6 linked regions of the Homo sapiens genome follow. The gene in region 1 interacts genetically with each later gene. Each region holds a gene or a part of one and is shown in the gene's direction. Other genes may lie near its edges. The genes, in order: TRPC6, EMC7, PDCL, MARCHF5, UFSP2 and SERPINB4.

The links.
Region 2: changes in TRPC6 (region 1) and EMC7 together harm fitness less than expected from each alone (positive genetic interaction), as found in Homo sapiens cells (one large-scale study listed by BioGRID).
Region 3: changes in TRPC6 (region 1) and PDCL together harm fitness less than expected from each alone (positive genetic interaction), as found in Homo sapiens cells (one large-scale study listed by BioGRID).
Region 4: changes in TRPC6 (region 1) and MARCHF5 together harm fitness less than expected from each alone (positive genetic interaction), as found in Homo sapiens cells (one large-scale study listed by BioGRID).
Region 5: changes in TRPC6 (region 1) and UFSP2 together harm fitness less than expected from each alone (positive genetic interaction), as found in Homo sapiens cells (one large-scale study listed by BioGRID).
Region 6: changes in TRPC6 (region 1) and SERPINB4 together harm fitness less than expected from each alone (positive genetic interaction), as found in Homo sapiens cells (one large-scale study listed by BioGRID).

What each region holds. Positions count from the first base shown.
Region 1 is NC_000011.10:101,577,508-101,581,007, reverse strand, and holds part of TRPC6 (short transient receptor potential channel 6), read left to right. Parts: intron 1-3,500. UniProt on the Homo sapiens protein: Forms a receptor-activated non-selective calcium permeant cation channel. Probably is operated by a phosphatidylinositol second messenger system activated by receptor tyrosine kinases or G-protein coupled receptors.
Region 2 is NC_000015.10:34,088,363-34,091,862, reverse strand, and holds part of EMC7 (endoplasmic reticulum membrane protein complex subunit 7 precursor), read left to right. Parts: intron 1-1,407; coding exon 1,408-1,546; intron 1,547-3,500. UniProt on the Homo sapiens protein: Part of the endoplasmic reticulum membrane protein complex (EMC) that enables the energy-independent insertion into endoplasmic reticulum membranes of newly synthesized membrane proteins.
Region 3 is NC_000009.12:122,818,589-122,822,088, reverse strand, and holds part of PDCL (phosducin-like protein), read left to right. Parts: intron 1-1,452; coding exon 1,453-2,004; 3' UTR 2,005-3,500. UniProt on the Homo sapiens protein: Acts as a positive regulator of hedgehog signaling and regulates ciliary function.
Region 4 is NC_000010.11:92,350,167-92,354,464, forward strand, and holds the end of MARCHF5 (E3 ubiquitin-protein ligase MARCHF5), read left to right. Parts: intron 1-924; coding exon 925-1,041; 3' UTR 1,042-3,798; downstream 3,799-4,298. UniProt on the Homo sapiens protein: Mitochondrial E3 ubiquitin-protein ligase that plays a crucial role in the control of mitochondrial morphology by acting as a positive regulator of mitochondrial fission and as an important regulator of immune response.
Region 5 is NC_000004.12:185,412,465-185,415,964, reverse strand, and holds part of UFSP2 (ufm1-specific protease 2), read left to right. Parts: intron 1-97; coding exon 98-255; intron 256-617; coding exon 618-810; intron 811-2,092; coding exon 2,093-2,239; intron 2,240-3,500. UniProt on the Homo sapiens protein: Thiol-dependent isopeptidase that specifically cleaves UFM1, a ubiquitin-like modifier protein, from conjugated proteins, such as CD274/PD-L1, CYB5R3, DDRGK1, MRE11, RPL26/uL24, TRIP4 and RPL26/uL24.
Region 6 is NC_000018.10:63,641,457-63,645,403, reverse strand, and holds the start of SERPINB4 (serpin B4), read left to right. Parts: upstream 1-1,147; 5' UTR 1,148-1,195; intron 1,196-1,781; exon of another isoform or gene 1,782-1,800; 5' UTR 1,801-1,826; coding exon 1,827-1,991; intron 1,992-2,186; coding exon 2,187-2,243; intron 2,244-3,515; coding exon 3,516-3,644; intron 3,645-3,947. UniProt on the Homo sapiens protein: May act as a protease inhibitor to modulate the host immune response against tumor cells.

The sequences.
Region 1 (3,500 bases):
ATTTTAAGTTTTTCTAGTTGAATAATCAACTAACAGAAAAATTTTAACCAAGAAACAAAAGTACTTCACACCTATGATGTATGAGAAAGAGCTAAAGAAAATTACTCCCTCTGGTAGAGTAGAAATCAACTCTTCCATATGCTTTTGACTTGTGATTTATACAATTTCATAGTGGGAGGTGTATCATTTCTGAAAGTGGCAATCACTAGTACATTTTAGATATGAATATTGCCATTTCTCAAATCATTGAGATTTTCCCTTATAAGATCCCAAGTCTTTGTAAGTTGTCATTTCTGTGGAATAAATTCTATGACTCTTGCCAAAAATTTCTGTTTCATAGTTTTCTTATTTAGAAAAATTTTTTACATATATTTATGGGGCTTCAGTAGTAATGGGGCTTCAGTAGTAATGGGGCTTCAGTTTTTATTTATATTTATGGGGCTTCAGTTTTCAGTAGTAAAACTGAAAATTATGGTAAATTATCTTATTTGTGAGCAATTATGTGCAATAAGGCCTTAATAGTTAAATAAGGCCTTAATAGTTAAAATAGTAATAAATTGAAATGGTGTTCAGAAGAAAATGGCTCAGATTTTCTCTTTATTCAACTTTCAATAGCAAATCAATTAATATTCTCTATTGTGATCAATTTGTAATGGTGATTAGCAAGAAAGGCCCATGTCCTGCCAAGGTCCCAGGAGGCATTTCAGATTTCCTTTATTTAGAACTTTAAAGGTATGTTTACAGTTCATCACTGCTGAACTTGGGGAAGAATCCCAGACATTTAAAAAAGTTAAGCATTTCTAAAATCTCAGGATCTGAAAACACAGTCCAACTAAACTTTCTGCTTGGGAAGGAGTAATTGATTGATTATGAATAATGAAACAGTAAACTGTAAACTAAAGCACTGGCAATTCAGCTGACTGAGACAATCTGAAAAATTTATGGTTACAGACACCTGGCAGTACTGGATAAAAGATTTTAAATGATTTTAAAACATCTCCCAATTTTGTGAAAAATAAAAGGGTAATCTACCATGTGCTAAGAACAAAGACATTAAAAGCGAGTATAGATTGTGAAGTGATGATGTGGTTGCCCTGTGAGTTATGCGTCCCAGTGACGAAGAAGCCTGGAATCTGATGTCCATATGAGACAGAAAGAAGGTAAACTCTTGGTGCCAGATGAGGCAGAGAGCTGGAACTGAGATACCCCTGTGCCCTGCATAAAGCCATTAAATAAAAATGTAGGCTAGAAATATATGCCCACCAGCATACAGTGAGAACAGGAAACTTTAACAGTAAGAAGAAAAGAACACTCCCCTTGAGAATATCGTTTTTGGGGTTTTTGTTTTTATACCCTACCTAACTAGCCTAGAAATAGTCAACATGGAAAATACTCCTGAGGTTCCTATAAGAGTAAAACACAAAATCATTATGAAAGACTAGTATCAAGCATCTAGATTGCCTAGGCTTTTCAAGAAGAAAGCAAGTCCTGCTAAAGATATGCTTGCTATAATGAATAACAAAACACACAAGGAAACAATCGACCAAGAGTGAGAGTCAGTGGACCATGGACTCAATCGACCATGAGTGAGTAGATATAAGACATGCAGTAGTTAGTGGATTTTTTAAAAAGTTGAGATAATACAACCACATGAAAAAGAATCTTTAAAAGTACATATAAATGTTGACAATATAAAAGAATAAATCAAACCTTAAGAAAAAAATGACATTTTTAAAGAAAAGGACAAATAGAACATCTATAAGTAAAAAATACAATTCTTAAAAAAAATTAATGGAAGGGCTAAATGCAGATTAGAACATAATTGATGATAATACCCAAAATGCAGAGACATAAAAAATATTTTGTATGAACATCGTTAAGAGTAATGGAGCTAGAAGGTAAGAGTTCCAGGAAAAGAAAACATATAGAAGTGGGAGAGGCAAGACTTGAATAGATAATGGGTAAGGATTTTCCAGAAATAATGAATTTTCATGTTTATGAAGTATACCAATATTATTGTAAAACAGAAAAAAAACCCCATTTAAACATATCATTTAAATTGCAGAACACCAAAGACAAGAGGAAATACTAAAAATTAAAGAAAACAGAGATTTGAATGAGAGAGTTTTAAAATTCAAAGTATTTACAGTGGAAATGCACTCATAATATATTTTGATATTACCTTGGTTAAAGAATGTATAGCTTGTAAGAACTATGGCTTTTCCATTACATAAAAGGTTTACTCTCTTGTTATTAATGGAGTCAGTGCTCCATTGCTGATAAGGTCTCCGATGGATATGTACTAAATATTTTTAAAAGGTGACTTATTGCATCACAGTCTTAGAGGAAACTCAAAGTGATTCTTAATTATATCCTCTCACATGAAAAAAACAAAAAATGACTTTTAAAAAATGGGTCACAGATCCTTTAAAATTTTTATTGACTTCAAGAGGGTTTTGGGTGACCTGAACCCCATTTATGAAAATAAGATCCAGAGTTTGAATTCCCAGTTTAAGAAAGGTAATGTAATGTTAGAGACCACAAGTAAAATCCCCCACATATTGTTTTCTTTTCTCCAGGCAAAAAAAGTTAGTATTGAACACATTGATAATAAGGGAATGAAAAATTCAGACTGTAGGCTAGAGAATCTTTCCTGATATTACTTGCCAATAGGATAACTAGTCTCTTAAAGAAGTTTAAGATTGAAGAACATGGACTCAGGCCTATGCATCATATTAAATTATTATATCCTTGTTATCTCTCCCTTGTTTTTGGCAACTATGTTCATTGAAACATCTGTTACACATTTTTACATTTATTTGTTCACACGTCCTTTTCCTCTGACTAGAATGTAAGCCACAAGAAGTGGGTCTGTCCTTCATCCCCCTATCTTAACACAGTGCCTAGCAGAGAGAAGGTACCATTTAATCTATTCCTCAACAAAGAGATTTCCTCCTCCTTGATATTTATTCAAATAAGGAATAAAATGATGCCAGCTACTTTAATGAAATAGCATCTGGATCAGCTAAGTTGGGCAGAAGAGTGAATGTCCATATCAAAAGAGATACCTATATCTTGTATTCCAGCTGCCTGTCACAAAGACTCATCTTTCAGGGAATCTTTCACCAATCACTACTGCCACCAGCATACTACTCTTCTTTTAGCTCTCTAGCCTGAGGCTCTTCCGTTAAAGTTCCCTCTGCACACCTGAGGCGAGGCTATATCTTTACCAAAGAGAATTAATAAAAAGGGAAAAACTCCTGGCTGGCTATAACTGCTCTTCCAGCTCATTTATGGAGTCTCCTGGGGATTGACCCTTGCCTGGCCCCAAGCATTATCTATCTGGCAGCGAGCGTTCTTGTTTTCCCTCTGCAGACCGTCCTCAATCAATCTAGTCCTTTGTCCTAGCCCAGACTGAAGAATGACTGCCTCCCCACCTCCCGCCACAACCTTTTTCTTTGGTGTAATATCTATTTTCCAAACTTTATTTCTTTTTAAAA
Region 2 (3,500 bases), on another chromosome or scaffold:
TTATTAATAAATGCATAGCTCCCCCCACAACAAAGGAAATCCCTAGGGGATAAACTATAAAGCACTTCCCCACCTGGAGATTTTGATATTCTCTAACCCAGAAGGCTTAGATTTAATTAGCAATGTGCAGGGAGGAGGCAAGCCATGGGCTTGCTTGGAGTCAGAATTAGATCTAAAATTTGGTCCTCCCTTTGACCTTTGGTACTAAAATGCAGAAGGCCCTGGATTTTCGGAGGGAAAAGTCTGATGCTGGCCTTTGGGGGAAAAAGTCTCCCCTGAAAACTGATAGTTACGCTCCTACACTCATTACAAGTTGGGGTATGAATTTATTACTTTCTGCATAATCCAGGAACTTCCAAGCTAAGCAATGAACAAAATAGTTTCTGTTTATAATTCCCAAATTCCTGGCAGTAACAAATGCATAATCTCTCTGGAAGGAGATACCCTTTGTATCTCTTTACTTAAATAAAGGTAAATAAAGTCTACTAAACTTACAAAGAACCCAAGAAAACAGTCTACATTGAGTCAGCAAATAAATCAGACCTCTAAGAACTTTAAATAGTAGAATTATTAGATATAGACTGTAAAATAATTTAATGTATATTTAAAGTACTTAAGGAAATAAAAGACTGCCATAGAAATGATATACCAAAATAGGCTATAGATATTTGAAAAAAGAATAGAATAGAATCTCTACAATGAATATAGGCATTGAAATGTACAACTAAATGGATGCATTAAGAAACTGAGCAGAAGTCTGATGAAGTGGGAGACAGATCAGAAAAAAAATTTCCCAACACAGCAATGACAGTGAAATAGGAGAGGCAGTTTTCAAAAAGTAAAATGGATCCTATGTAAACATGGATGAGAATTTTGATTAAAATTAGTGCGTCTTTGGTGAAAAATGTAGCGTTACCTATAGCACTGCTGCAGTGCTTTCTTGCATTATAACATTTTCTGGCAATATAGCCTTAAAAATTGGTTACATCCAATAATGCATTTCTTAGACCATCAAAAAAATAAAATCCAGTATTTTTGTATGGTATAATGAAGTAAATTCATTACTAAATATAATCAAATAACTTTAGCACCAGAAGGATTCTAAAAGAACTTTTGACATAAATAGAAGTTAGGGAACTGATTTAATCCCACAGGTCTAGGTAATGACAGAGCTGCAGCTAGAAGATTCCAAGTCTAGCGTTTTTTTCTCTGTGTTTTGCTGCATATTTTAGACATGTAGATAAAGCTATTTTGGTCAGATTTTCAAGATCAAAAGTTTAGGTTTTAAAGCATTTTGGAAAAAGCTGAAAGTGTGTATAAGGCATTGCTAATATAATATAAGCAGTTCTTTTAACCAGTAATGTTTTTAATGGAATTACTGTTGCTTTCCCCATGTTGCTTTATCAGAGCAAGATATGTGAATTACATCAAAACATCAGAGGTTGTCAGACTGCCCTATCCTCTCCAAATGAAATCTTCAGGTCCACCTTCTTACTTTATTAAAAGGGAATCGTGGGGCTGGACAGACTTTCTAATGAACCCAATGGTATGTATCAGGCTAAAATAAAGCACTTTACTAATACCTAATTTGCTTCTAGGCAGTGGAAACTTCAAACCTCTGTGAGATAGAAAGCTGAGGTCAGATTGGTGGATGAAAGGATAATTGTGAATAATTTGCAGATTTCAGAAGAATAGTGGCTTTGGGAATACATAATGAAGAGAATATAATGAGAATTGCACTGTAGATTTGATTATTGAAATGTGTAATAGAAATTGGATAAATATTTATAGCATGTTTTACATTTCAAATAGAATAAGAATACTCAGTAAGTCAGTCATACCTGGAGCTGTCTCATTCTTCATACTACCTGCGTATTTTTTGTTTGTGGTTTGTTTTGGCTTTTTTTAGACGGGGTTTCGCTCTTGTTGGCCAGGCTGGAGTGCAATGGTGCGATCTCGGCTCACCACAACCTCTGCCTCCCAGGTTCAAGCGATTCTCATGCCTCAGCCTCCCAAGTAGCTGGGATTACAGGCATGTGCCACCACGCCCGGCTAATTTTGTATTTTTAGTAGTGACAGAGTTTCTCCATCTTGGCCAGGCTGGTCTTGAACTCCTGACCTCAGGTGATCTGCCCGCCTCGGCCTCCTAAAGTGCTGGGATTACAGGCGTGAGCCACCGCACCCAGCCATACTGCCTGCATATTATTAGTCCATTGATGAATGTGCCATCATTTATTAACCAGCCCCTATTGATAGCACAAGTAAGGATTTCTTCCTCTTTTTTTAACATGTGTAGTGAAGAGAAAAGTTATTCTATGGTAATTTAAGTAGTTGGCATTATGAACCGATGTTATGATACTCACTAATAATAAAACACTAATAGCATGCATTCTTTAAAAATTTGTTTTTATTTTTAATTATTATAGGTGCCTAATAGATGTACATTTATGAAGTACATATGATGTTTTGATATAGGCATACGATGTGTATTAATCACATCAGGGTAATTGGGATATCCCTCACCTTAAGCATTTATCATGTTTTTATAAATGTTAGGAACATACCAATTCCACTCTTTGATTGTGATTTTAAAATATACAATAAATTATTGTTGACTATCATCAAGAAAACAGTTTTTAGAAACAAATCGACCTTTTCTTTTGCTGTTTTTAAAAATTGAATTGCTGTCTTAGAATTTGTCTAAGTAGGCCAGGCGCGGTGGCTCACGCCTGTAATCCCAGCACTTTGGGAGGCTGAGGTGGGCGGATCACAAGGTCAGGAGTTCGAGACCAGCCTGGCCAACATGGTGAAACCTCATCTCTATCAAAAATATAAAAAGTTAGCTGGGTGTGGTGGCGGGGACCTGTAATCCCAGCTACTTGGGAGGCTGAGGCAGGAGAACTGCTTGAACCAGAGGGGGTGGAGGTTGCAGTGAGCCAAGATTGCACCACCACACTTCAGCCCGGGGAACAGAGCGAGACCGTGTCTCAAAAAATAAAAATAAAAATAAAAGAATTTATCTAAGTTTTGGTCATAATCCTTGCTGATAGCTATTTAGATCACACATGATCTGTTTTCAGAGGCTGTATATCCCCTAGGGAGGAATAAATTAGTACCTAGAATCTGTAATCAGAGATAAAGAGGCGGGGGGAGACTGGATGGAAGAAGTCAGCAGTGAAACTCCAGAGCTTATTCACCTTCCATGTTCTCATTTCTGAAATTCCGTGGAAGTGTATCTAGTGCTCCAGTGCTTGATGCTTCTAGGTCATTTTTCAAAACTGGTCTGCTAAAGTAGGTCAGTTTTCCAAGAACCACAGTCACCTGAAAAGAGCAGTTAGCTTGCCATCAGATCACCAATCCCATTGCCAGACTATAGATTAAAAAAAAAAAAAAAGGGAATAGATAGTTCCATTTGCAAACTATTTGTGTTAAATAACACTGTAACTCTGCAAAAAGATAGGTGGGTGGCACAACTATGAAGTGAGGTGTCTATAAAGTCC
Region 3 (3,500 bases), on another chromosome or scaffold:
GCTGATTTTAGGACATTACACTTAGCCAAAGACTTCAATAGGTCAGAAGAAGCCACTCTGGTAGACTGAGTTGAAGTGGAGGGCTGCAAGATGGGAGGAAAATTGGCAATAAGTAAAATAGTGAACTCAGAATGTTGCTGGTTATGATAAAGTAACAACGTGTTCTGATCTAGTGTGATCTCCCACTCCCTGTTCCCTAATCTATGCAACATTAGGCAGAGTTAGGTTTTATGAGAGGAGCGAGGATGTCTTGCTGCACCGGGGCAGGGGTAAGATGCTTTCGTAGCTTAAGCTGTCTCTTGGGCATTGTGCCTGCTGCTCACAGCTGCTTCCTGATACTGAGGTGAGAGGCCAGAATGAGGCAACATCATATCATCACATGGATCAGTCTTGTGAGAGGCTGTTCCCGTCCTGCTGATTTATCTGCAATAGAACAGAATTGGAAACTGTCTGGCAGAATTAGGGAAGTGATTAAGCAAAGTGACACATTATATATAATTTCATAAAAATATTTGGAAACATGAGGAAATACTTATAATCGTGCTAAGTCTCGAAAGCAGGTTATGGCTTAATTGGTACACCCACAGCTGCTGCTATAAAAGCAAAACTATTTTAGTATGACTGGTAATAAAAATAATTTTTAGAGTCCATATGACTCTGTGTGTGTGTGTGTGTTTGGGGATGGTGTGGGGCAGGGGTTATGAGAGTTTTTTCTAAAATTCTGTAATGTCTTGTTATCTTTCAAAAAAAAAGTAGATAAAATATTGTCAAGACTGACAAAAAGAAATAAGCTCATGAAGTGAGATTATATGATGCTGCCTATTTGGATTGAGAGGAAATGTGATATTGTAGTTAAAAACATGGGTTTTTAAAATCTAGTTTGAGTACTGGTCTTATGCTTACTGGGTGAACTTGTTCAAATAATGTCAAGTTTTGGAACCTCATTTATAAAGTGGGGCTATTAAAAGTCCCTTCCCGATGGAGTTATGGAATTCAGTGAGATATAATGCATGTAAAGTACTTAGCATGGTGCCTTATATATTATCAGCATGTAGTACATGTTAACTGTTTTATTTCTTTTTATTTTTTTGGAGACAGGGTATCACCCTGTCTCCCAGGCTGGAGTGCACTGGTGTGATCTTGGCTAACTGCAACCTCTGCCTCCCAGGTTCAAGTGATTCTTGTTGTGCCTCAGCCTCCAGTGTAGCTGGGACCACAGGTGCACACCACCATGCCCTGCTAACTTTTTTTTTTTTTTTTTTTTTTAAGGAGAGATGAGGCTTTGCCATGTTGGCCAGGCTGGTCTTGAACTCCTGACCTCAAGTGATCCGCTCGTCTCAGCCTCCCAAAGTGCTAGGATTACAGGCGTGAGCCACCGCGCCCGGCCCATATTAACTGTTATCACGAGTGTTCAGTTTTCATATTTATGCTCACTTGCTGGTCCGCCTGCAGATGACTCTGAAGGAGTTTGCCATAATGAATGAGGACCAAGATGATGAAGAGTTTCTGCAGCAGTACCGGAAGCAGCGAATGGAAGAGATGCGGCAGCAGCTTCACAAGGGGCCCCAATTCAAGCAGGTTTTTGAGATCTCCAGTGGAGAAGGGTTTTTAGACATGATTGATAAAGAACAGAAAAGCATTGTCATCATGGTTCATATTTATGAGGATGGCATTCCAGGGACCGAAGCCATGAATGGTTGCATGATCTGCCTTGCCGCAGAGTACCCAGCTGTCAAGTTCTGCAAGGTGAAGAGCTCAGTTATTGGCGCCAGCAGTCAGTTCACCAGGAATGCCCTTCCTGCCCTGCTGATCTATAAGGGGGGTGAATTGATCGGCAATTTTGTTCGTGTTACTGACCAGCTGGGGGATGATTTCTTTGCTGTGGACCTTGAAGCTTTTCTCCAGGAATTTGGATTACTCCCAGAAAAGGAAGTCTTGGTGCTGACATCTGTGCGTAACTCTGCCACGTGTCACAGTGAGGATAGCGACCTGGAAATAGATTGAACTGATAGTCTAGTTGCATAGATTTCTCATTGTTTGGGTTGGAATACACGTCATTGTTTATTTTTGTTCCTTTGTCTTCTGGCTTTTCAGCTGTTCTTTGTAGTCCCTTTTATTATGCATAAAATAAAGAAATTCTTAGATTAAATCAGAATGCTGAATAACCTTGTAGCTAGCAATAAGGTGACTTACAGTTGTATAAACAGGAAGCCAGGCTTTTGAACTGTTTACTTAAGATTCTGTGGTGTGACATCTCTGTTATTGTTTCCAGTCAATATTTACAAAGCATCCTAAAGACAGGGTCTTGGAAATTGTCTTCAGATGATCTTAGAGGTCTCTGCCAAGTCTGAGAGTATAATTCTGTAGGTATTGTGTTATTTGCAACGTAAATAGTGCATTTTCTTAATCAAATGATTGTAAATTATATTTACTTGTAATCAGTTCCATAGCTTTAGACGGTGGTTAGATTTTTTTTTTCCCCACCAGGGTCTTGTTTAAAGGGGTGAGCCACCGCACCCAGTCCTGAGGGGTGGCCTCTGCTGCTGGATTTCATGTCTTCCTCCAGCATGACTAAGTCTGGAACAGCAGGAAGGGTTGATGCTTACTGACCTGGTGATGTTAGAAGACAAGTAGTTTATGGATTTAAACATTAGAGCTGGAGTGGGGCTGGAAATCTTTGTAAAGGAAGTTCTTTCAGTAAGATGCCCCTGCTTGTCTTTGTCTCTTTTTTGTTTAACAAGGTAACTTTTTGTTTAACAAGGTAACTTTTTGTTTAACCTAGATTTTTTTTAAAACTTTTTTTTTTTTTCATATTGGAAAAGTAATTCATATTCAGTAGAGGAAAACTGACCAAAACAGAAGCAAAAATAAGAAAATTAAAATAATCTCTAATCCTACTACCTAGAATAAAACACTATTAATATTTTGGTCTGTTTCCTGCCAAGGTGTTTTCTGTGTATACATGGATATTTTGTTTGTTTTTAAACAAAACGATGGGATCATTCTGAACATACTGTTCTATAGTATGGTCAGCTAATAATATATCAGACCTTTTTTTATATTATTAAATATTCTACAACTTTTTAAAAATGTCTATTAATATTCCATCGTATAGATGTGATATAATTTGCTTGATGGTTGTCTCTTAAAAAGAAAGATAGCAAATACTTTTTTTAAATTACAAAAGTGATAGATGTTCATTGTAGAAAATGTAATAAACACTGTTAAGACTTAAAAGCCATATAATTCCACCAACCAAAATTAATCCCTTTTGTCATATTTCTAGTCATTTTTATAGCCTTTTTTTCTATGTATTTATAATAATTATCATTTGCGTTTTTTTCCTTTTTTTAACTTTAAAAATGTATATTCTAGGGTCAGGGGAAATGTAATCTGGAATTAAATATTAGCCTTAAAATTCACAATTTTGATTTTCCTGGCTTTTCAGGAATTGACTAACTGTAAAAGAGTCTTGAAAGTATTTAGTCAACAAACAGAGT
Region 4 (4,298 bases), on another chromosome or scaffold:
GAAATCTAAATCAAATGTCTGGACTTTTTGTTCCTGTAGTATGGTGATGGTAATAATCAGGATTATTGTGAGGATTGTATAAGTACTAGCACATAGTAAGCACTCATGTTGTTTGCTATTATTGTTACTCCCACTTCTCCCCTCTGGTGGCATGTAACCTGCACGGACCTTGGAGGACTGAACAAAGGGGGCAAACGTGGGAATAAAAGACAAAGACAAGAGAGTATATTTGGAAGAAGGGGTCAGGGGGCACCTTGCCTCTAGTGGACAAGGGCCCTGAGCTTTACACAGCCCTCTGTATTTATTAGGCAAAAGAGATAGTGAGAAGCAGGGGTGATTGTCGGGTAATTGTCAGTCCATTTGGCAGTTTGGTTCACAGCAGGCTTGCGAGACTGCATCATTTGAACAGTAGGCGCTAGATTTCCCAGTAGATAAGTTCAAGGAGCCCTGCACCAGGGAGTGATGGCCCCCAGCAAACCCTTTGGTGGCAGGCTCAGTGTGAGTTTACTCACATCCTGCATTCATGATAAACAGTTTGCTGTTTGGTCATATAGCCTCCAGTGGAATGCTGAGTTGGTCACGATCCCTTTGGCCTTTCTTGCTCCCAACAGTGGCAGTCTGCACATAGTGCCCTAGCATTCTTCTTTGTATATCAGAGTATATGTAGAACTACATGGAAGAAAGACTAGTCAGAAAGGATAATGGAGAAGGCATCTGTGTCCCCTGTTACCTGTAGTAACAGCGTATAGTCTGTCTCTCTCCCTATCTCATCTCCTAGTAGAAAAAGAAAACTGTTTCATTTGCAGTCATCTGAATTAGTTTAGCATCAAAGCCTACGTCTTTTGTGATCTAAATAAAATTATTTTTATTACTCTGTTTCTCTAAATCTGCATTATAAAAAGCTAATTTTCCTTTTTATTTTAGGGTGGAATTGCGTTTGTTGCCATAAAAGGAGCATTTAAAGTTTACTTCAAACAGCAGCAATATTTACGACAGGCACACCGCAAAATTCTGAATTATCCAGAACAAGAAGAAGCATAAAACTGACTTCTGGTTGTTCTGCAGTTCTCTCATCCTTATGAATCTGTTGTGTTGTTTTGATTCCATCATTAATGCACTTGTGGAGACTTGTGATAAGCTGCTGCTCCTATATTTTTTAAGAAATATAATAAAGCACTTAGGGCAGGGGAAATCATCTCGGTAATCATGGAACCTAAGGATGTGATTTGTTTTCATTGTTTGTATGTACTACTTTTATGGCAGTCATATGAACCATTATCTTAGCATGGTAAACCTGGGTTTTGTTCATATTTTCTCCAGACAGAAATGCAAAGATCAAACTGTGCAAATATTAAAAAAATGCACATGCTGTTTTATTCAAATGCCTCTTTTGTACATGTTCATGTTTAGTGTTTTCTCAGAATCAGCAACTCAAGGTACTATGAGGATTTTTCTCACTGACATAATTTGATTACATACTAAATAAGAGGATATGTTAATATGAGGAAATGTAAATTAAATTAGTTATAAATAAATAACCAAAAATGTATGTAAACATTCAAATGATTATCTGAACAAATGAGATTTTGTGGTGTTTTCTTTAACCCATGTGATGTCCTCCAAAATGTGTAGGGTAAAAATTCACAGGGCTTCCAGATCACTTTTTCAATATTAAATTTTATTTACATAATGTTGACATCTCATACTTCATGAAGTAATTTTGACTCATGCAGTCGTGTGTGTGTGTGTGTGTGTGTGTGTGTGTGTGTGTGTATTTGTGTGTTTCAGTGTTTCATCAGGTCCTTCCATCTCTGGGAGTTTTTTCAACCCATATTTCTAGAAATTACAGCTGCCAGTTTATAGTAGTTTGAGCAGAGGATGATTTGCAAAAATAAAAATAAAGTTATTTTACTCTCCTCTTGCATTGATTCAGTTATTGAGATATTCGTTGATCACCTCCTATTTCCCAGGCACTGTGCAGAGTGCTGTAGGACATAGTGGTGAACAAGACAGACTTGGTCCAAGCTCTTACAGAGTTGACAGTCTAGTTTCAGCACATAGAAAACCAGCAGTGAATAAACCAAGGTGAGGCCTTGAGCTCTTTGTTTTTATATTAATGAGGAGAAAAGTATGAAAACAAGAAGTCTTAAGTAAATATTGAGGTCATTGTTTTTGGCTTAAGTTTATTATAGAAAATCAACACTAATGTTTTTAGATTTTAATTGTCCTATTGATGAGGCTAGCACCTTAATCACTGTTTAGTTTTGTATTCATTTTTAAAAGCAATTATTGAAGCCATTTTCAATAGATTGGCCATTTTAATGTTCAGCAACCTGAATGGTTATTTTTGTTAATTAAAATTAAATTTTTAAGAGATATTTTCAAAACCCTATTTATTTTCTTGTTCACAGTAATGCATGTCAATAATAAATGTTTCCCCTTACTGATAAGCGGCCACTTTAGGAGTGTAGCAAATATAGATTGAGCTATGTTAGTTTGCAATAATATATGTTAACTTTAGTAATTAAAGACTGGTTTCTATAGTATGAATGTCTTAATTTTGAGTTATATGATGTTTATTTGAATGACTGTTGAACATTCAAATTTGTATTATTTGGAGATGAAGATTTGACTAACAGTGAGCCTTATTAAGAACACTACTACAGTTCTGAAGGGGAAATATAACATCTATGGTTATATATTTTAAAAACTTAGATTATAGGCTGTAATTATAAAATATATTGGCTTTTGTTTTCAATGTGAAAGATACATTAAATGGACACATATCTTGCAAAATTTTGTTGTATAGAACAGTTTTTAGGCAGCCTTTACTAAAGTTATGCAAACACACAGTTCCCCATTTACTACATTAATGCCCTTGACAGGGAGTAGCTGCTTGGTTTTATAGGTATTAGGGCTCATGAAGGCCGGGGAACAACTCTAATCCTTTTGGGGCAGGAGGGAGGGTTTTTTTAGGGTTGCGGGGAGGGAACTGCAAGTGCCTGAGGACCAGAGTGGCCTCTAGCCCCGAATTGAACACTTTTAAACCTAAAGAGCCTTATTATTATTAGCTCGAGAAATACCACATGCCAGTCTTCCCAGGAAGGTGACCTGCCTGACCATGAAGCAACAAAAGAGCATAGGCAGACTTAAAGTTGGATAGACCTGGGTTCAAATCATAGTTCAGCTTTCAATAACTGTATGTATGATTTTGGCTAAAGGATTTGACTTTCTCTCAACTGCAGTTTTCTTAATCTTTGAAATGCAAATAATGTTTATCTCAGAAGACTATTTCTAGGATTAACTGAGAGATTAAAGGAACAGCAGCACTTAGGCTCAAAATCGCCCCTACAAAGCAGTAGTTGTTTCTTAATTGCTAAGTAATCTGTTTGCACTCTAGGAAAAGTAAATGGAGAGGTAAAAGAAAGGCATTGGGGACAAATGAAAGAGATGATGTAGATTTTTCGGATGGGTGGGTATATTTTATTTTCCAGTTTATTTTCATATTTCTTTACTGTGTTATTTCTGGAAACTTTAATGTTTTAAACCTCTTTTATAAAATTCAATGACGACTACTAGAATTCTTTTCAAAAGTTAACTTATCTCCAAAGTGGCTGAAAATATTGTTTACCATTACATGATTATGAAATGACTGTGAAGAATATAAAATTAAACTTAGTGACTTAATTAGTCACTGCCTTGCTAACTTTGCTGTAATTTTTTTAAACGTCTTGTTTTTAATATAGCAAACTATCTCAATACTGGCTGGATTAGGTTAAATAAAGAATTTTTATGTTCTCTAGGTGTACTTTGTTAAATCTCAAAACATTCTGTACATACATAATTTTTTTTAATCACAGTTATCGAGATACTAGTTTTTGTAAGTAAAAGTAATCTGAATTTAAAAAAAAAACTGTATGGAAGAATTTGTCCTAATTTTGTAAACAGGCTAGCCTATATTCTAAGTATGTTCTAATGACTAAACTACATCCCCACTCACCCACCCTCAAAGCCTCTTGCACTGAGTATAATTAAGCAACTAGACAAGATCTGTGGGTGGTCTCATGCCATGATGTCTTAAAGTGTATTCGAGTGAGTTGGGAACACAAACTGCTTCTGAGATATTAAGAACTTAAATTTCTGAAGTAGAAGATTAGAATCCTCTAGAATGAGTTAAAGGTCTTTTCCTTGCATCCATTTGGGGATTATATTGGTTTTAAGTCATTTCATTACCCCATCTGAGAGACAGATGCTAAGAGGAGAAAGGGCATAGAATTGAACAGTCCTGGATGCATATG
Region 5 (3,500 bases), on another chromosome or scaffold:
CTTAATAATAAATACATTTTTGAAAAGTCTTTTTACTTACTCTTTATATTTAGTGTTTAATGCACTACAAGTTGACTATTACTGTTTATCTATATAGCATCAAATAGTAAATATAGATCTTATGCTGGAAATGTCAACCTCCCTGGCAGCTGTAACGCCCATCATTGAAAGGGAAAGCGGAGGACACCATTATGTTAATATGACTTTACCTGTCGATGCAGTTATATCTGTTGCTCCAGAAGAAACATGGGGAAAGTAAGTATTTTTATAGTACCACTGCCACATTTGAATGAGGGCCCTTCCCCAAACCCATGTTTGTATATCCTGTAGGTATACCTAAGGTGTGATTTTCTCCTTGTTTATTATTAACCTAAGAGCCATCTATTAATTAAATGGTTATTTGGAGGAAGTAGGGTAGCATGCTAAAACCTGGAGGATTTCCCTTTATCCACAAAGAGCAAATACACAGTTTCTTTTATAATGTATAATTCAGACTTCCTTTAGCAAACCTGGTCCAATCAAGTTTTTTACTATACTAAGGATATATTAGCTCTGTACTTTTCTTTATTGTAGTCACTATAACTTTTGTTAATACACTTATATATTTCCCCCCACAGAGTTCGTAAACTCCTGGTTGATGCAATTCATAATCAACTAACTGACATGGAAAAATGTATTTTGAAATATATGAAAGGAACATCTATTGTGGTCCCTGAACCACTGCACTTTTTATTACCAGGGAAAAAAAATCTTGTAACAATTTCATATCCTTCAGGAATACCAGATGGCCAGCTGCAGGCCTATAGGAAGGTAAAACCAGTTCATCTATTCTTAGAAAAAACAATAATGACTATCATTCATTTTGTATTTAATTATATATTTCCACTAAATGGAAGGTATTTTGTGATTTAACTTAAAAGTGTGGAATTTAGACTATTCATTTTACACATTATTTAATTTCTGTTCTCATGAAACTTTAAGTAGTATTAATGACAAAATGTTATGTTGAACCTATATGTAACATTTTAATTTTAAATGCTCGGTGTGGTTCATATATTCTGTGAAATTTTAATATTTTTCCATAATGAAATATAGAAATGGTGCTTACATGCCTAAAGTTGCTGGTATTAACAGATTTCTATAACTTTCCGATTTGTGAAAGAGACAAGATTACAGTTAGGGAAGGAAAATGATAACTTATGCTAATTCTGAATAGGATTTATGGTAATACTCCACAAGTAAGGTTATTTGGGCTTTATTAGAGGAATTTTGGAGAAAACATGACCAGCATTCAAAGTAATGAGATTTACTCATGACTGGTTTTGGAGTGCATCTTTTTGATATGTGGACTCGCTTAGAACCTATCAAATTAGACCGTGGAGCATCTTCCTAATTTCTGTCCTTAGGGAGAGCGAGAATACCCTGACCCTCTGTATGTGGAGGTGACTTGGTTTGTAGAAGCAATAGCTACAGGAGCTGATCTTTTAAAACCACTGGAGTACAAGATATGATAAAGAACATGTCAAACTTTTTAAAATACCTATTACATGTTTTTATATAGTTGGGAAAATAACACATTTTAAACATATATGTGTATTTGTTTTCCTGCCATATTGGTTGGCTTTAGACCACTAACTTCTACTCTGTAGTTTAATCACTACCACTTACAATATAAAATATTTGTAAGGCACTCGACACAATTTTGCAAAATACTTTGATATAATTATTGTTAATTATAATTTACTCATTTACAAGGCTATTTCAAAACCAGTCTTTAGCCTGGATGTATTTTAACAGACTATGTTGTAATAAATAATTATTTAAAAATTAGTTCTCTTACTCTAACAATTTATATTCATTTTTCTCTGTTCCCTTCCAGTTTCTACCCAGATACAGACGTAAACGAAAATAAATCTTACTTGGTTTTAGTTCAGTTTTCACCATCTTTGATGTTAGTGAATTAAACCATAAGTGTTTGGAAACTTTTATAACCTATATATAATTTTCCATGTTTAATAACATCTTTATTTATTGACTAGGAATCTAAATCACCAACATTTTTTCTTTTTCTGTTGATTCTGATTTATTTTAGGAGTTACATGATCTTTTCAATCTGCCTCACGACAGACCCTATTTCAAAAGGTCTAATGCTTATCACTTTCCAGATGAGCCATACAAAGATGGTTACATTAGAAATCCACATACTTACCTTAATCCACCTAACATGGAGACTGGTATGGTGAGTTTAACTAATTATTTATGGGAGTCACTGGATCAGTAATGTTATTAGTTGTTTTTTGTTGGTACCCAGTAGGAGACTTGATTCATTATGTATTCATTCCTAAAACATGATTTATCACCCATCTCTGTTAACAGACATTGCTTAAGATAGCAGTAATTAAAAATGGTCTAGAAAAGTTAGTAATAGGTAGATATACCACATTTATCTTACTAAAATTCTCTTATTTCTTTAAAGGCTTGTCCCATTTTTTTTCATTCTGAACCTGAGAAATCATGCTAATTAAGGGCATAGTCTACCCAAACCACACTGTAGGATAAATCTTTTTTTGTTTTTTTGAGACAGAGTCTCGCTCTGTCACTCAGGCTGTAGTGCAATGGTGTGATCTCAGCTCACTGCAACCTCCGCCTCCTGGGTTCAAGCAATTCTCCTGCCTCAGTCTCCTGAGCAGCTGGGGTTACAGGCACCTGCCACCACACCTGGCTAATTTTTGTATTTTTAGTAGAGACAGGGTTTCACCATGTTGGCCAGTAGCTAGGGTTACAGGCACCTGCCACCACACCTGGCTAGTTTTTGTATTTTTAGTAGAGACAGGATTTCACCATGTTGGCCAGGCTGGTCGTGAACTCCTGACCTCAAGTGATCCGCCATGTAGGCCTCCCAAAGTGCTGGGATTACAGGCATGATTCACCATGCCCAGCCACTGTAGGATAAGTCTAATGAGGAACTAGACTTATTTTCCATGTAACATATACCCGGTTGCCAGGGATAGATCCTCCCTAAAGGTAGCTCAAATAAGAGTGAATTGGCGGAGGGTGGTGGAAGGGTTACTTTAAGGATACATGGAGGCCAGTGAGAAAGGACCTTATAAGGCATCCAAGATTAGGAATACCAATAGAGCTGGGCCTCTTAGAAACAGCAGCCCTGTGACTAGCAGGTGTCTTCAGTCTCTCTCAAGGACTCCGTGGATACCTTGGTGGCATTGCTATTGCTTTCTGTGTATGCTTGTGATCCTAACTGGCCTGTTCTTAACTTTTACTCTGTCTGCTCCACCTCATACCCTCTGTATCCTCACTGTTTCAGCTTGTGTGTCACTTTTTCCTGTTCTTCCTCAGCTGCCCAGTGTATGCCTCATTCCAACTGCATTTCCTGCTCCTGGCTGCCTGGCTAACTCTGCACCTCTCAGTTCAGATTCCCAAGAGAAAGAAAACTTGGCTATCGTATGGTGGCATTTATTAATACCTTCTGAGCGTCCAGGACT
Region 6 (3,947 bases), on another chromosome or scaffold:
GTAAAATTAGAAAGCTGCCATTTAAAATGGCCCGTCTGTTTCAATTGCTCTTCTCAGTGTCAGCCTGTTAACTCAATGTGTTAGTCTGTTTTCATGCTGCTGATAAAAACATACCTGAGACTGGCAAGAAAAAGAGGTTTAATTGGGCTTAGAGTTCCACGTGATTGGGGAGGCCTCAGAATCACAGTAGGAGGCAAAAGTTATTCTTACATGGTGGCTGCAAGAGAAGATGAGGAAGAAGCAAAAGAAGAAACCCCTGATAAACCCATCGGATCTCCTGAGGCTTATTAACTATCATGAGAATAGCACAAGAAAGACCGGCCCCCATGATTCAATTACCTCTACCTGGGTCCCTCCAATAACATGTGGAAATTCTGGTAGATACAATTCAAGTTGAGATTTGGGTGGGAACACAGCCAAACCATATCACTCAGCAAGGCAGATAACTTTCTCACTGAGCCTATGCAACAGAAAACCATCTGGGATGGTTGTAAGGGGCACAGGAAGTGACTGGTAGGATCACTGCCAAAGCTGAGCACTCAGGAGAAGGCAATAGAATCCTATTCTCCATAGTATGCTATAAGATACTGAAGTACACTTCTTCACTATCTCTTTGGACTTAGAATTAGCACTACATTCCTTGTTATACAGAAAAATTACTAAGGAAATTCATAGGATGACAAAAACTTTCAGAACTGAAAAACAGGAAATGTAAGCTTTTTAGTTCTTTGGTATTCGAAGTATGCCTAAAAGACAATGCAAAATCCAAGAAAAGAATGGTGGGGTTTTTGTTTGTTTGTTTTTGTTTTTGTTTTACAGCTGGAGTAGAATACAAAGGGATGGAGTTGAAACAAATGAGAGGAAATTGGAATTCTAAACTTATTCTCATTGGCATTAGAAAGGCACCTACATGTATTTCACATGAGCCGGTGACTGCTGACTTGCATTCTTATTTTTTCCCTATAGATTAAAAAGGAGGTACAATGGTAGAACTGTAATCCTGTCCTTTGTCATAAATTTTCATATTCATAAAGGTGAGTGTTAGCCCGCTTGTGAAATCTGAAGTTGAGTAACTTCAAATACTAACCACAGAGGGAAAGGCAGCAAGAGGAGAGGCATAAATTTAGGATCTCACCCTTCATTCCACAGACACACACAGCCTCTCTGCCCACCTCTGCTTCCTCTAGGAACACAGGTAAGAGCTTCAAGCCTCTCCAGCTTAATAACATGAATTATTTTTGAGAATAATAATGATACTGTGTTCTATATCATGCATCTCCTGCATTCTGTCTGATTATATTTTACTTATTCTGCCAGAGCAAAATTAAAATACCTATTTCATCTGATTTGTCCTTTATCTAAATTGCTTAGTTCCAAGTAAACCAAGGCACTTTTAGGAACACAGAGGGAGAGTGCCTTGCAGCCAGAGAGTCTTGAAGGAGATGTCAGGGACGCATCTTAACAGCTGGTTGGATGTGATCCACAGAGGTCTCCTGTTAGCATTCATTGTAAAGCCATCCTACCTAGCTCTAGTGTAACCAGCAATGAAAGAAAGATAAAGAGGGTCGATTACTTATTTACAATAGTCTTTAAAAACGTAGTTTTGTAAGCCTTCTAATTAGGACATTAATATATTTAATATATGCACATTGTAGAAAGATTGAAGCGTTAAAAATAAGAGAAAAACTTTAAATGTCAAAATCTCACAACCCAGATATATCATTTCTTTAAGAAAATTGTACTACAAAATACCATTCCATTTATTAAAGTCATTCTGACAGGAATCTGATGCTTTTCCAGGAGTTCCAGATCACATCGAGTTCACCATGAATTCACTCAGTGAAGCCAACACCAAGTTCATGTTCGATCTGTTCCAACAGTTCAGAAAATCAAAAGAGAACAACATCTTCTATTCCCCTATCAGCATCACATCAGCATTAGGGATGGTCCTCTTAGGAGCCAAAGACAACACTGCACAACAAATTAGCAAGGTAGCTATCAGCATCATTACGTTGTCCTGTTGCAGTTTTTCTCTGGTTCCGTCGGCTAGCACGCAGATGGTAATAGATGTGGTGGTCTGATGGGTAGCACAGGGGGCTGTGCAGGAATTCCCATAACTGTGAGACCACTGACTTAAACAGATCTTTTGAGTAAAGTTTTCTTGTCCCGCTTCATGTCTCTTCCAGGTTCTTCACTTTGATCAAGTCACAGAGAACACCACAGAAAAAGCTGCAACATATCATGTGAGTCACAGAGCACTATGGTTCAGCTTTAGATCCCTGAACAGGTCATAGTTTAAACCTGGAACTTCACAAAAACTAAGAAAAGGCCAGTTTTAGGGAAAATCTTGGACACAAAGATTGAGACATACAGAGTGGGTTGGCATTTCATGGCACATAATTATTATTCCTCATTTCTGCGTTACTAAAAGACAGTCAGCACTGTACCTCAGAGCATAGGTCTGGATCAGGATAGGCTGGGTTCAGACTCCAGCTTTGCTCTTCACAAATGATGAATAAGAGCAGGACACAACTGCTCGGAGTCCCAGTGACCTCATCCCAGAAAACTAAGGGTAAGAAAAAATCTGACTCAATACATGCAAATACATGCAAATGTTTACAACAGTGCCTTGCCCATAAAAGTCATAATAAATGTTATTATTATTATAAAGTAGCTATAATTATACTAATCATAATAATGTGAAAATAATTTAATTTTCATTGAGTCATTAATGAGATTCAGAGGAATAAGCACAAGTCCAAGTATATTTTGGAAAATGATTGCTATGGAATATATTGGTTTAGAGCCTTAATAGTGCAAAATGCTTTGCTGGAAGGTAGAAAGTTCTAGATTTAAACAGGCTTAGGTTCAAAACTTGGCACTTCTAATTTATGTCTCTATAAACAGGGTTTTTTTCCCCATTCTCTGAGCTTTCTTGTGTTCATCTGAATTGAACTAAAGACTTAGAGTTACCCATGTAAAGTCCTTAGCCATGGACCTGGCATACACTCTTCTTACGTGCAGAGAATGACCATCATGAGGAAAGAGCCACAGATCAGTCAATGTGTCCTACAAGATAATAGCACCAACAGGTATAACAGGGCTTCCTGGCATAATCTATTTAAAATATCCAACCTTCAACATACTCGTATCCTTGATGACTGTTAGAAGTGAAATATGGTCCTTGCCCATAAGGAGCTGAGAGTTTAACTGGGAAGCTAAACCTAACCCTTTAAACCAACAAGGAGAAAATCTACTGGTAGACAGCGCTGCATCTTTAGTTCAGAAGAGAAAAGATTGCAGTACGTTAGAGCAAGAAGAATTTTCTGGAAGAAGTCAAATATAAGGTGGATTTTGAAGGGTATTTGAGGTGAAATACACCAATTATCAGGGAATAACATCAAAGGTCCTCAATGAGACTACCAGCATTTAGGGACTGATCTAACAGACTTAGCATGGGTTTAGTATTTACATTGATACAGCAATTGAATGATCTCCCTTTTTGATGTTTGAAGGTTGATAGGTCAGGAAATGTTCATCACCAGTTTCAAAAGCTTCTGACTGAATTCAACAAATCCACTGATGCATATGAGCTGAAGATCGCCAACAAGCTCTTCGGAGAAAAGACGTATCAATTTTTACAGGTAATTTCACCTGGCCTACCCACATTTCATTTGCATCCTGATGTCTGTGTCTCTGAGTGGCCAAATGGAAGAAAGCAAGGCAGATGAGCCTGGCCGACTCAGGTGGAGAGCATTTACTCAGAGTGCATTAGCTCCATTTCCACAACTCTCCCCCACTGGAGTGTCCCAGACCCCAACGATACATCACTGAAGTGTGGATTTAGGGATAATCTTGTGATAAAAGAGGAGGTTGTGTAATAGAGTGAGTAAGAGTAATAAGTAATAAGATACCATCGATAAACTGGCACTGACTCAGTCACATAC